Regions from separate parts of the Homo sapiens genome. Here regions 2 and 3 are each reported to be linked to region 1. Evidence: microRNA targets listed by miRTarBase, many of them from high-throughput screens and not tested one by one. Region 1 holds a microRNA gene; each other region holds the end of a gene's coding sequence.

Region 1 (4,147 bases):
CGTGTTTGTGCCACTGCACCCCAGTCTGGGCAACAGAGTGAGACCCTGTTTCAATAATAATTAATGAATTAAGAACATTTCAGATATAATACACAGCTTGAGCCAGGGCTAGTCAAAGATGTGAACCAGCCTACTGCATTAGTGTTTTGGAAGGGCTGACACTTAGGGGCAGGAGGAGGGAGGGAAAAGGACCAGGGGAAGGAAAGAACAAGGTAATGCAGGGTTCAGAGCACACAGTGCTTTAAACACCATGTGCAGGAATAAGAAATGTGTCCACGGTTTCCCTTCTCTGAAACATTTTGTGTAGGAGGTCCCAAAGGCCTGTCTCTCCCTGATTAAGGAGGAACAAGGTACCTCCTAAAGAACCCTGAATAATTACCTAAAAATAGATAAACAATTTTAATCTCCTTTATGTCATACTTATGATTAAAGTCTTAAAAATCCTGTGCTTGGTGTTTCCGGTTTCAATGTGTGGTCACACACCTTACCTCATGTAGTCTTCATGGCATTCAGGAAGCAGGTGTTACCAAATTTTGTTTGACAGATGAGACACTGAGATTTAGGAGTCCCTAACAAACATTTCTTGACGTAAAAATGAAAGCTGTCTTTTAAAAAGCTTTAAAGATTAGTGTGATAATGTTTAACTGAGTAGGTGTGTGTTCTTCTCAGGAGTGAGAAAAGTGTGTTTGGCTGCCAGATGGCTTTTGGAGACTTGTGTTGGTTAGGCCAGCAAAAATGCCCTCCAATCTGTGGACCAGCTGCACCAGCTGCACCCAGGAGCTTCTTAATAATGTAGAGTGTGAGTCTCCCCCTCCAGAGGTTTTCAGATTTGGTAGGTCAGGGGTGAGAATCTGGAAGGAATATCGTTAAAAAGCTCCTCAGGTAATTCTGATGCACGGCCAGGTGGAAGATTGGTCAATTGCCTCTTTTGGTTGCAAGGATAATTTGAGGCCCTGATGATAAAAATGTGGTCTGCAAGCCACCTGTCTCAGCATCACTCAGATGCAGTTTCCTGGACCTCGCCCTACCAAATTAGACCTACCAAATTAGAAATCTCCAGAGGTGGGCATATTTTAAACAAACTCCCAAGATCCATTTGTTCATTTATTTACAAATATTTCTTCAGGTCTAGGTATGTGATAAACACCATTCCAGGAACTGGGATATAAAGGCAAATGAGGCCAACAATGTCTCTCCCCTAAAGACACTTGAATTTTGACCCAGCTCTTTGAATGCTGGAGTTTGAGAACCACTATCTTAAAATAATACAGGGATTCAACCAAAGTTCCTATTGGGACTGCCTCAGTTATCCATTGCTGGTAACAAAACACTGCTAAAACTTAGTGGCTGAAAATGACAATGATTTTTCCCGTCCTCATGATGCAATGTGTTGGCTGGTTGATTCTCCTACAGGTCTGCTCTGGGTTCGACTGAGATAAACCTGGCCTGGCTGGGCCCCTCTCCATGAAGTTGTTCATCTCAGGCTTCTTAGGGCATGGTGGTTTCAGGTTTCCAAGAGGGCCAACCCCAATATGCCAATGCCTATCACATATCTGCCTGTCCTATGACAAACATGGCAGGTAGATATTTGATAGGCATTGGCACACTGGCAAAACGAAGTCCTATGGCCATGCTCAGCCTCAGCATGAAAGGGGAATTCACAGGAGTGTAGACACCAGAGAGTCACTTCTTTGGGGATCACTGCATTCTGTCAAAGTTACTGTGGCTGCCCCTTGAACCTGGCATCTCTTTGTGTATCTTCTCACTTCCCCACTGTTCTCTAGTTTAAACTCCTAGGTGAAGGAATCCAATTGGTCTTGCTAAGCACGTCCATGGCTCACAGTCACCCCTACTCATGGGGATTTTAGGACTCAGCAGGATTGCAAGCAGAGCTGGTGTAAAGGAGATGAGAAGGACACTAGGGGTATCTTAAGCACCATGGCTGAACCTCCCATAGGATAGTCATAAAATTCCCATGGTCAGTGCTTTAATCACCTTGATATAAAAATATGCCCCTAAATATTTTATGTATTTGTTGCTGGGAGCAAAGTTAAAGTTTTGTGTTTGATATTGATTACATGGATTTTTTTAATGTTTCTTTTTGATTTTTGGAATAACACATATATGTTGTAGAAGTTTTAAAAATACAAAAACGAAAATTAAAATCACTAGTCATAGCATTATCTAGAAAAACCTTTTAGCACATTTGCTTTCACATTTTTGCTCATAAATGTGTTCTTCTTTACAGAATTAGGCCAGCAATACAGCTTTCTGTCTTACACTCTTTGAATGCTGGAGTTTGAGAACCACTATCTTAAAATAATGCAGTGATTCAACAGGAGTTGAATCACTAGCATTATCACTAGTGCTAGCATTTTCCCACGTGATTACAATCTCCTCGTAAAATAATTTTGAGTTATATAACAATCAGTGAGACATACTATTTCATAATCATACAGTTGCTTGTTTCATATATATATATATATATATATATATATATATTTTTTTTTTTTTTTTTTTAAGACAAAGTTTCGCTCTTGTTGCCCAGGCTGGAGTGCAATGGCGCAATCTCGGCTCAATGCAACCTCTGCCTCCGGGGTTCAAGGGATTCTCCTGCCTCAGCCTCCTGAGTAGCTGGAATTACAGGCATGCACCACCACACCTGGCTAATTTTGTAGTTTTAGTAGAGACAGGGTTTCTCCATGTTGGTCAGGCTGGTCTCGAATTCCCGACCTCAGGTGATCTGCCCGCCTTGGCCTCCCAAAGTGCTAGGATTACAAGTGTGAGCCACCACGCCCAGCTGTTACATATTTTTTGGCAATTATCAGCAGTGCTATAATGACTCATTTCTGTTCATAAGCCTTTATCTGCATTTGGATTTTTCCATTGAATAGATGGGGTTCATATCTTTTCTTTATATAGCACAGTTTTTAAGATTACTTCAATGTTTCCTAATAAATAGCTAAAGAGATATTTTCCCTCCTGAATGGGACCAACACTTCCCTCTGCTGCATATGCCATATGGCTTTGCAGAATGGGTCTATTTCCTTTTGCTCCATTTCCTCTTGTTTGACAGGCCTTGTCTATCCCCATTTCCTTGTGGGTACAAAAGAGAGCCGGGCTGGGTTACGTTTTCAGTGACTTTACCAGAACTACAGACAGAGCTGTACATGTTCCCACGGTCACCTCTTTATCCAAACCATGGAAAACTGCCCTTTTTTTTTTTCCTTTCCATAACTGGCACAAGCTGTGTTTGGGTCAGGAACCCAACATCAACTACAAAGACTGACCTCCACCCAGGGAACTTGAGAAGAAGCTAGATAACACTGTTGGGAAATTATTCCCTCATGTGAATTGGCATTTGAATATGTGCTAGTATTATGCACATTTTTAAAATATCACTGAACTAAATGTAATGGAAAATAATACACTGGCCTTAGTAAGTCAAGGAACTTGGCCTGACGGGCATATCAATAAGGCAACCCAATGTCAACTAATTCACTCACTCATCACACTCTCAGTAAGTGCTAGATTCTATCCAGGAGCCCAGCATAAGAAAAGATGTTAGACAGTTAACAGTTGGAGTAGCAGACTTAAACAACTGTATATAATGTGTTAAAGTGAGAATCTAGTAGATAATGCAGAGGGAGAGGCCCCTGAGCCTATCTAGGTAATCAAAGAAAGCTGGTTACTGCAGATTGCGCAGGATTGAGAGAAATATGAAGGTTGCCTCAATGCATTTACCCTACAGTGTGAGAATAAAATACTGTCACAGAGGCTGACAACACTGGGGCAGCTTCCCATGATTGATACTGCACTATATACAATTCTAGATTGCAATGAAATCAAAACCATGAGACACTAAGAGGGTTTTAGCTTCCCTTTATTTCCTGATAATTTCAATGAGGGATTTTACAGACTTTTTAATTCTTCTGCTCAAATATGGAGGTCATAGGCCCCAGAGCTGGTTTGGAATTAGCTCACTCAGCAATACAGGTGGACAACAAAAGAATGTGCCCTTCACCTGTAGATCTTCCTTTAAAAATAAATAGAGATGGGGTCTCACTATGTTACCCAGGCTAGTCTCAAACTCCTGGCCTCAAGCAATCCTCCCACCTCGACCTCCCAAAGCACTGGGATTACAGGC
Region 2 (4,147 bases), not on the chromosome of region 1:
ACAGGCCACAACATCTGGCTAGTTTTTTGTAGGGACGGGGTTTCTCCATGCATGCTACCCAAGCTGGTCTCCTGAGCTCAAGCAATCCACCCAGCTCGGCCTCCCAAAGTGTTGGGATTACAGGCATGAGCCACCGCACCTGGCTCCCAAAATACGTATGTTCTAATAGAACGACTTAAATAGGAAAAAAAATTGAAGAAGATAAAAAATAAAGTCATGATTACAACAGAAAAGCATAACCATACAAGTGAACTACAATTTGGCCTAGAGCTGCCCAAAAGACAAAGAGGAGCAACAAAGAGAGCATTAGACTCTTTAAGATGAAAACGAATCCCAAATGCCCATCAAGGATAGACTGGATAAAGAAAACGTGGCACATATACACCATGGAATACTATGCAGCCATAAAAAAGGGATGAGTTCATGTTCTTTGCAGGGACATGGATGAAGCTGGAAACCATAATTCTCAGCAAACTAACACAGGAACAGAAAACCAAACACTGCATGTTCTCACTCATAAGTGGGAGTTGAACAATGAGAACACATGGACACAGGGAGTGGAACATGACACACTGGGGCCTGTCAGGGGGTGGGAGGCTAGCGGAGGGATAGCATTAGGAGAAATACCTAATGTAGATGACGGGTTGATGGGTGCAGCAAACCACCATGGCACGTGTATACCTATGTAACAAACCTGGATGTTCTGCACGTGTATCCCAGATCTTAAAGTATAATAAAAATAAAATTAGGGAAAACCACTAAATAGAAAAAAGAGAGAAAAACAAATTAGGCTGGTCACAATGGCTCACACCTGTAATCCCAGCACTTTAGGAGGCTGAGGCGGGTGGATCACCTGAGGTCAGGAGTTTAAGACTAGCCTGACCAATATGGTGAAAGCCTGTCTCTATTAAAAATACAAAAATTAGCCTGGTGTGGTGATGTGCACCTGTAGTCCCAGCGACTCGGGAGGCTGAGACAGAATTGCTTGAACCCGGGAGGCGGAGGCTGCAGTGAGCCGAAATTGCGCCACTGCACTCCAGCCTGGGTGACAGAGCGACTTTGTCCCAAAACAAACAAACAAACAAAACAAAAACCACACAACCCTCCCCTGAAACTCAACTGTTTAGGAGAAGCACATGTTTTGCTGAGATCAAGACCCAAGAGAAGTTTCTCCTATGGGTCTTCATAAAAGGTACACTATGTGATATATTTAATAGTAGCCATTAGCCTTAAAAACACATGTATTGAAAATATATGTTTTGATGACTGTGTTTGCTATTAGGAGCCAACAGCATAGAAACAAAGCATAATGCAGTAACAGTAATTCTATGAAGAGCCAAAATGTGGATCAAATATGTAGCTCTCTGAAGATTTCCTAGAGGATAAAATTTAGATTCTTCTGCTAGTTGGGAAAACAGACTTGTTTTATCATAATCCCCAAACTCATGTGTTCCTATAAGTAATAAAATCCATTTCAAAACCAAATTATTTTTATATCTAAAGCCACTGTTCCCTTTTAATATCACAGACTGAACTAGACTACATAGATAATTTATCTAAGCATGGTTTTCTAAATAAATGTGCTGTAAATGGCTAATCTCGATGTAGTAGATACATTTTAAAATGCTGTTTTATGGTTGTACTAACTATATGTAAACTTATTTCTAAAAGGTTAAAAGATTATCCACAAAAATGTTATTTCAGTTACATTCAATTTTTAGAATTATTAGTATAGGTTATGTTAAAGTGCATTGCACCTATTCACAAAGACTTTCAAAAAATGATCAGCAATATAAAGTGTAAACCTAAAAAGAAAATCAGACTCATTCTACATCTGTGAAATTCAGCACTTAAATATAATTCAATTTACAATAATTGTAAAAGATAGGGAGAATATAGAAAATGGAGGGGGAAAATGGTATTCAACATATGAACAACACAGCTACTGTTGTAGTGAAAAAATAATTTATTAAATGAACATAATACTGGGAGTAAAATGCATTATAAAAGTAAAAAAAAGTAAATTATAAATATAAATAATAGTGGTTTACCTAATTAACAGATTTTTTTCTTCATCCTTGAAGAACTTTAAATACAATCTTCCAAAAAGCCAGATTGAAAAAGTGGCTGGTTCGCTTTAGAACAGACAGGCAACACTATAATATCTAGAATTTGGCAAAGATCTGTTATATAAGATACAGAATGGTACTGATTAAATGATTGTTCTTTTTAAGCCTTTTGTAAGTCTAGAATAATAATTTTAATAAATAAGCAGATCAATTTATTATATTCATTTCTGTCTCTAAGGATAGCAAACATATTTCTGATACACATTGTGAAAAATGTTCTGAGAACATACCTGTGCACTTTGACAGACTAAAAATTTTTGGTTATTTGGTAAAAAGTGATCTCCTTTTTACTTCAAAGGTTAACAACAGCCATTGAATGTGTTGATATATGTCATTAGAATTTTAAACAGCCACACCTTAATATATATATACATCAAGATACCGATAAACTTTTAGATAGTAAAGAAAAAAATGGAGATTGTTATTCTATTTCCCCAGTAAGTTTCCCTCAGTTTTTAGAAAGCATACCGACTGGGATTGCAAAATGCCAGCATGATTACAATGCTTATTAACAGCAATATGCAAAACAGTGAAAATAGAAAATAAATAACTTCATCCTATAAAAATGAAACAAGGCACTTTTAATGACTGTACACAAAGCTGAAATAAACAAACATTTTTTCATAAAGCTGACTCAAAGACCCTAGGAGACTTTTGTAGAAAGTGAAATAGTAAAGGCACTACATAATTCTTTCTCCTAACTCTACTTACTAAAAAAATCCACCAATTAAACTTGGCACAAAAGAGTTTAATTATCATAAAGTGCATCACTTGGCTAAATATATTAAAAAGAAAATCAGCCATAATACAGTATAACAACATCTTCACACAAATAGAAATAAAAATGCAATGTCAGGAGTCAAGCCAGTTAGGAACTTTGCAGTATATATGGCTTTTTATTTTCTTTTTTGTATAAGCCCCTATTTATTTAGAATCTATATTTTCGAAAGAATATGCCTTAACAAAAGGAGGTAGTATTCTGAAAGAGGCAAACTCACTAAATCTAGGTAGAGATAAAGATTACGTGGAAACTAAACAAATGTAACATATTAATAACTGTGACACTTATTAAAGTATTTTGATATTAATGAATCAGCTTTTAAAATCAAGGCTATCTTATCACTTTAGCTATATGATTACAGCTCTTTCAAGTAGTTTTCCTTTGGTACTAGAAAGTCATTTTTCTAAAGAGCATTAACATTTCAAATAAGCAAATTTTATTTAGAGATGTAAACATGTAAACATTAAAAACTCAACTAAATTTTATCTTTATTATGATGGTCACTGATTTAAACTATTAATGAAAATATGTCATGTCAGAGATATAAAGAAGAATATATCACCCAGATAGTAACATGCAATTAATTTCCATTTGATTAATATAATTGGTGATTTAACACACATACATATATACACAGTAGTTTGGAGCAATATATAGGCAAAACACCATAATAATTTATGCACAGTATTTAAGAATGTGGGCCTTGATAACAGAATTCCAACAAGATTTTTTTTAGTGTATTAAATGTAATTGGATAAAATACAATTAAAAGCAGCAGTGAATATATTTCCTATCTCAATAACTTAAAAAAACTTCTTTATGTAAACTTTATACATGTGCATTCTTGCTCTTTTCTATATGTTTTACAGTTCTTGGTTCTTCTTTTAAAATAGTATTTGCCACTCTTCTAAATTTTTGAATAGTCTAAATGGAGGGAACTGCTTGTGATACATTAGTCTTCTTCAGCATCATATGCCACTTCTGCTACTTCTATCTCTGATACAGCATTTTCAGGTTCACTAAAACTTAAGCATGGTTTATTATCAGCTCTGCAAAAAAAAAAAAAAAAGGAACATATCAATGATGGGACTGGATGCATGCTATTATTTCATTTTCACTATTACCTTTAAAAATCTTCTACCTTATAGAAAATTTACATACTTAGTGTAAAAGTATTTAATGTAAGAGTATTTAAACATTCAATCAGAAATTTGATATATTTAAGTTGTCATTGCCA
Region 3 (4,147 bases), not on the chromosome of region 1:
TGGCACGCACGGGGCAGGTGGCGATTACGGCCCAAGAAGGCCCAGTGCTGGGTCGATACACTCAACACTGTGATCATCTTTTGTTGGTGGGTATTTGCAGAATGCATTGAACAAATTAAAGGAGGGTAAGAAATGGCTTATCTGGTGACAATGGAGAGTGGTATTGTTTTCCACATCATCATATTCTTAAACAACTCCCAGCGATCTAAAATGCTGATGAAGGAAGGATAGAGTTTTATTTATTTTCACCAAATAGCTGGACATATTAAAAACTTAAGGTAGACTGGAAATAAAATACAACTCCAACATGTTTTAAATCAGATTTGATTTTTTTAATTCAAATTGACCCAAAGCAAAACTTACATTAAAAAGGAAGAACAAAATACATTATGATATAACACACTAGGAGTTACATGAAAGCTAAATTTGTGGGCAAATGGCCTTATCCCAATCACATTCTGGGCTCATGAGCACTCCTGCAGGAAAGTTAGAATCTCAATTTCGTATGGTCCACGCCGGTCATTAAACTACACATTCTTGTCTCTTGGGGTGTGCATCTGACGAGTCATGCTAGAGTCCCTCATGCTCCAGATGTGTACTCTTGCTACTGCCAGAACGCTGGATTCTCTAGTGGAAATGCTGTTCCAAGCATGACTGACAATGAATTAAAAAATGAGACAGTCAAGTCCTCCAAACTAACAGGCATGGATTACTGTGTAGTAAATAGTTTAGAAATATGGGAATTAAATAATCTAAAAAACACTCTTACTCTGCTGTACATTTATAAACACAAATATTTACAAAAAAAAAAAAACACAAAACCTTGTTTTCGAAAGATGAGGTTTGCAGTTCATTAATGATCATAATCTTTTGTAAGCTGGTTTCTTTGGTGTATTTGCCAAATATATTTTTATAAAGGTTTAGTAATAGGCTTAAATAATAAATTTCAAAGGAAACATAAAAGAATCTGACAAATTTGAAAATATTCTGAACATTTTCTGTTCTGTTTCTGGAAAAAACAATCGGTTGATTTTTCTGAAAATATCTGTTCTCCCTATTCATTATGTGACCATGGAATGCTTCTCTGTGAATCCAATTCAAATGCAGACCTGCAGGTGTCACCACTATCATCTACCAGTAACCCACCTGGAGACATTTTAGTTATTGTGAAATGTGATTGGGATTTTATTAACAACAAAAATAAAACATTCTTTTTAAGCTTCCAGATAAATCAAACCTCAAACAATAAATAATGGAATTATACACTTCTTCATTAAATAGAAATTTCAAAATTCCAGGAAGAGCTCTCATAATTTTTTTTTTCTGAAGTCACAGCAGCAATACAGAACAAAGAATTTACCTTAATCTGATCTTTTTACGTGGAATTCCCTGACTCAAACTCAGTGGCTTAGTTTGGAAACCTCTGAATGGCTGGGGAGAGAAAATCTTTTGAAACTAAGTGAATAAATTAACACACACATACGTGGAAATCAGCCCTTGTGCAAGTGTAACATGAACATCACTGATGAGAGTGCAGAAACTCCAGGCACCCCTCTGCCTCCTCCTATCCCTGGGCCTGGGGTTGTAGGGAGAAGTCACACTCAATTCATTTCTAGCCACACCATGTCCCTAACAGTGCTAGTGTGAACTAGCCCTGACCTGGGTATTGGTTTAAAGAATGAGAATACAGCTTGGCAACTGTCTTCATAAGGGACTCTCTCTGGAGATAACTTTTTGGAACATTTTTATGGGGAAGAGGACAGACTACCCGTTCCTATCCATCAGGCTCCAGCTAGTTTGGGGATGGTTATAGAACTGGCCACACTCAGAGTGGCTGCCTGCGAAAGAGTCTATGCCAAAGAGTCTATGGGCCACACCAGCAATCTCCCGAATAATCCTCTTCTCTGAAGCTGCCCGTCTTCGGAAACCTGTGCAATGCTTAGGCACAAGCAGATCAGAGTCTAAGAGCAAACGCTGTGCTTGAGAAAACAGCACTGCTGGCTCTGAAAAAGGTGAAGCCAGAGAAAACTCCTAGTTCTGCTTAGTTACACTTCTGGGTGAAACAGTTTTACACTTCATGACTTAAATCTAGAAATTCAGACGAGAGAAGCCCTTCGTCTTGTAAACTTCTGATAACAAATTTATTAACAGTGTGTTAAATATTTTTTCCCAAAGCACTAAGAACGATACTGGGACATTTGAAAAGGTTCTTCTGAAGTTAATAACACAAATCAAGCCAGAATACGTTTCTGAGGGCATCCTCTTAGATGCCTAATGCCTCTGGGACCTTTTCCATTGTTACTGACACTTTATCATATCCGTGTTTACACGGCAAACATATGCCCAATCAACCCAGAAAATAATTGTCCTGAAGAGCCTCACTGTATATAACCTTAAAATGGGAAATGTTTAATTAGCATATTAGAAATTAGCCAGACTTATAAATGTGTACCCCTTAAAGATTTTACGCTTAAAAAGTTTTTTTTTTAAACTGGGAAGAAAAGAAACACCATGAAGCCACCCCAAATTATTGAACCATTAAAGCCAAATGATTTAACAATTTTTAAGGGAAGACTCGACCACCAGGGTACAAAATTTTCTGCTTAAAGTGAAGTCAAAGACATAGCTTCAGATGGAAATTGCAACTGACATACGATGGCTCTGCAGTGACAACTGAAGCGGCGGCTCCTGTCCTCACGGGCATGTCAAAGCTGGCTGTGAAATGACGACCAGCAAGTGAAATAATGGATAAAATACACCAGAAGGAGTATTGCACTGCAGGCACAGTTTTAAAAACAGAATACACTGGCTTCACAAAGTTATTTTCTTTCCCGTTAATTTTTTTAAAAGTACAACTCTAACTAGAGATAGAAATCGAGATGCAGTGTCTCAGGGTAGTGTACTACAGTTGTTAAAAAAAAAATAAGTTAAAAACAAGAGCACAGCAAAAGAAAAGCAGAGGTACTGGATTTATGTCATAAGCAGAGATACTGGATTTATGTCATCCGAAAGCTACATTAATTAGGAAAAAGAACAGTTTGAAACGGCCAGTTTGTACTCATTAAAAATGAATGAGGTGACAGCGTTACTTCAAACATTTCTTAGGGCATTTTCCAAAAGAACCCAGGGTCGCCCTGGGTGAAACTGTGCCTCCAAACGTTAACAAGTGCTCTGCTGGTTTAGAATACCGTGCTTACCAAGGAACCATAAATTTGGAAAGGGTAAATTCTCCACTCTAAACCTGCTTGTGTCATTTAAGAAAAGACAATTTTTCTAAATGCAGTATTGTATACAAAGCTTGGACCTCTTAAACTTGGACCAAGAAACCAAATTAAGACCTTCAAGCATGTGGTGTGTGTTTTTATATATATATAAAAAATCCCTCCCCTACAATGAAAACCAACCAAACAAACAGAAAACCCAAAAGTGTATACCTGCTTTCTGATTTCACAGCAAATCAGAAATTGCATAGGATATACTTTGTGCAAGGCAAAAAGCCTTTTAAGTATCTAGAATAGAACTCCTAATCTTGCTCACAGTTCTGGCATATCAGATATCATCAAATTTGTGTTTTAAGTAGTCTTTCATGACCTTGGCAATTGGTAGTTCATCAAGTAGCTTTAGGTTTTGAAGGCCTATACATTGTCGAATTTTAATTCGGCACAGGTCCTGCAAGTTTCTGGGCTGTCCTAAAAAGACAGAAAAAAGAAAATGTTACAAAGCCACAAAGCACAATATTTAAGGCACTTTTGAAAAGAACTGTTCATTTCCCTGGAAGTTCTCTCTATGGACTTGACATGCAAAGGACCGGAAAGATACCAACTCAAAGTGTCCTAGGACCTTCATGCGATGCCTTATTTGATCCTTTTCACAACCGTGGGATGGTGGATATTTTCAACTCCATTTTACCAATAAGAAAACTGAGTATCAGATGTAAACAAGTTGCTTAATATCAGACAACCAATTAAGGCTTTCAACTGAGACCAAAAACAGTTTTGATTCTAAGCCTCATATCCTTTCTGTTATAAATCAGGAAAATTCTGGTTCTCGTCCTGACTAGGTCTCTCTCACGCTGGGTGAGCCACTGTGAGCCAATCATTCCTCTGAGCCTTGGCTTCTCAATCTGAAAAGTGTGGGGACTGAAAGA

What was found. Region 1 holds the annotated microRNA hsa-miR-3927-5p (GCCUAUCACAUAUCUGCCUGU, at 1,541-1,561, shown strand). A microRNA usually pairs through its seed, bases 2 to 8, with sites in the 3' UTR of a target mRNA and lowers its output. Matches are read on the target gene's strand: a 7mer-m8 pairs with bases 2 to 8, a 7mer-A1 pairs with bases 2 to 7 and ends in A, and an 8mer does both.
Region 2: miRTarBase lists SNX16 as a target of hsa-miR-3927-5p. Seed matches in the 3' UTR shown: 7mer-A1 at 3,699-3,705.
Region 3: the mRNA of ASB7 is a reported target of hsa-miR-3927-5p. Seed matches in the 3' UTR shown: 7mer-A1 at 1,773-1,779 and 7mer-A1 at 1,563-1,569.

The regions. Positions count from the first base shown.
Region 1 is chr9:109,508,932-109,513,078 of GRCh38, reverse strand. It overlaps MIR3927 (microRNA 3927), which reads left to right and starts at 1,534; the gene lies at 1,534-1,604. It also overlaps a transcript of PTPN3 not described here.
Region 2 is chr8:81,797,635-81,801,781 of GRCh38, forward strand. It overlaps SNX16 (sorting nexin 16), which reads right to left. Exons shown (of 8, transcript NM_152836.3): 8 at 1,949-3,959. The coding sequence ends at 3,863. Among named protein-coding and RNA genes, the nearest start is that of SNX16, 42 kb to the right of the region's middle.
Region 3 is chr15:100,647,865-100,652,011 of GRCh38, reverse strand. ASB7 (ankyrin repeat and SOCS box containing 7) reads right to left here. Exons shown (of 6, transcript NM_198243.3): 6 at 311-3,689. The coding sequence ends at 3,550. Among named protein-coding and RNA genes, the nearest start is that of ASB7, 47 kb to the right of the region's middle.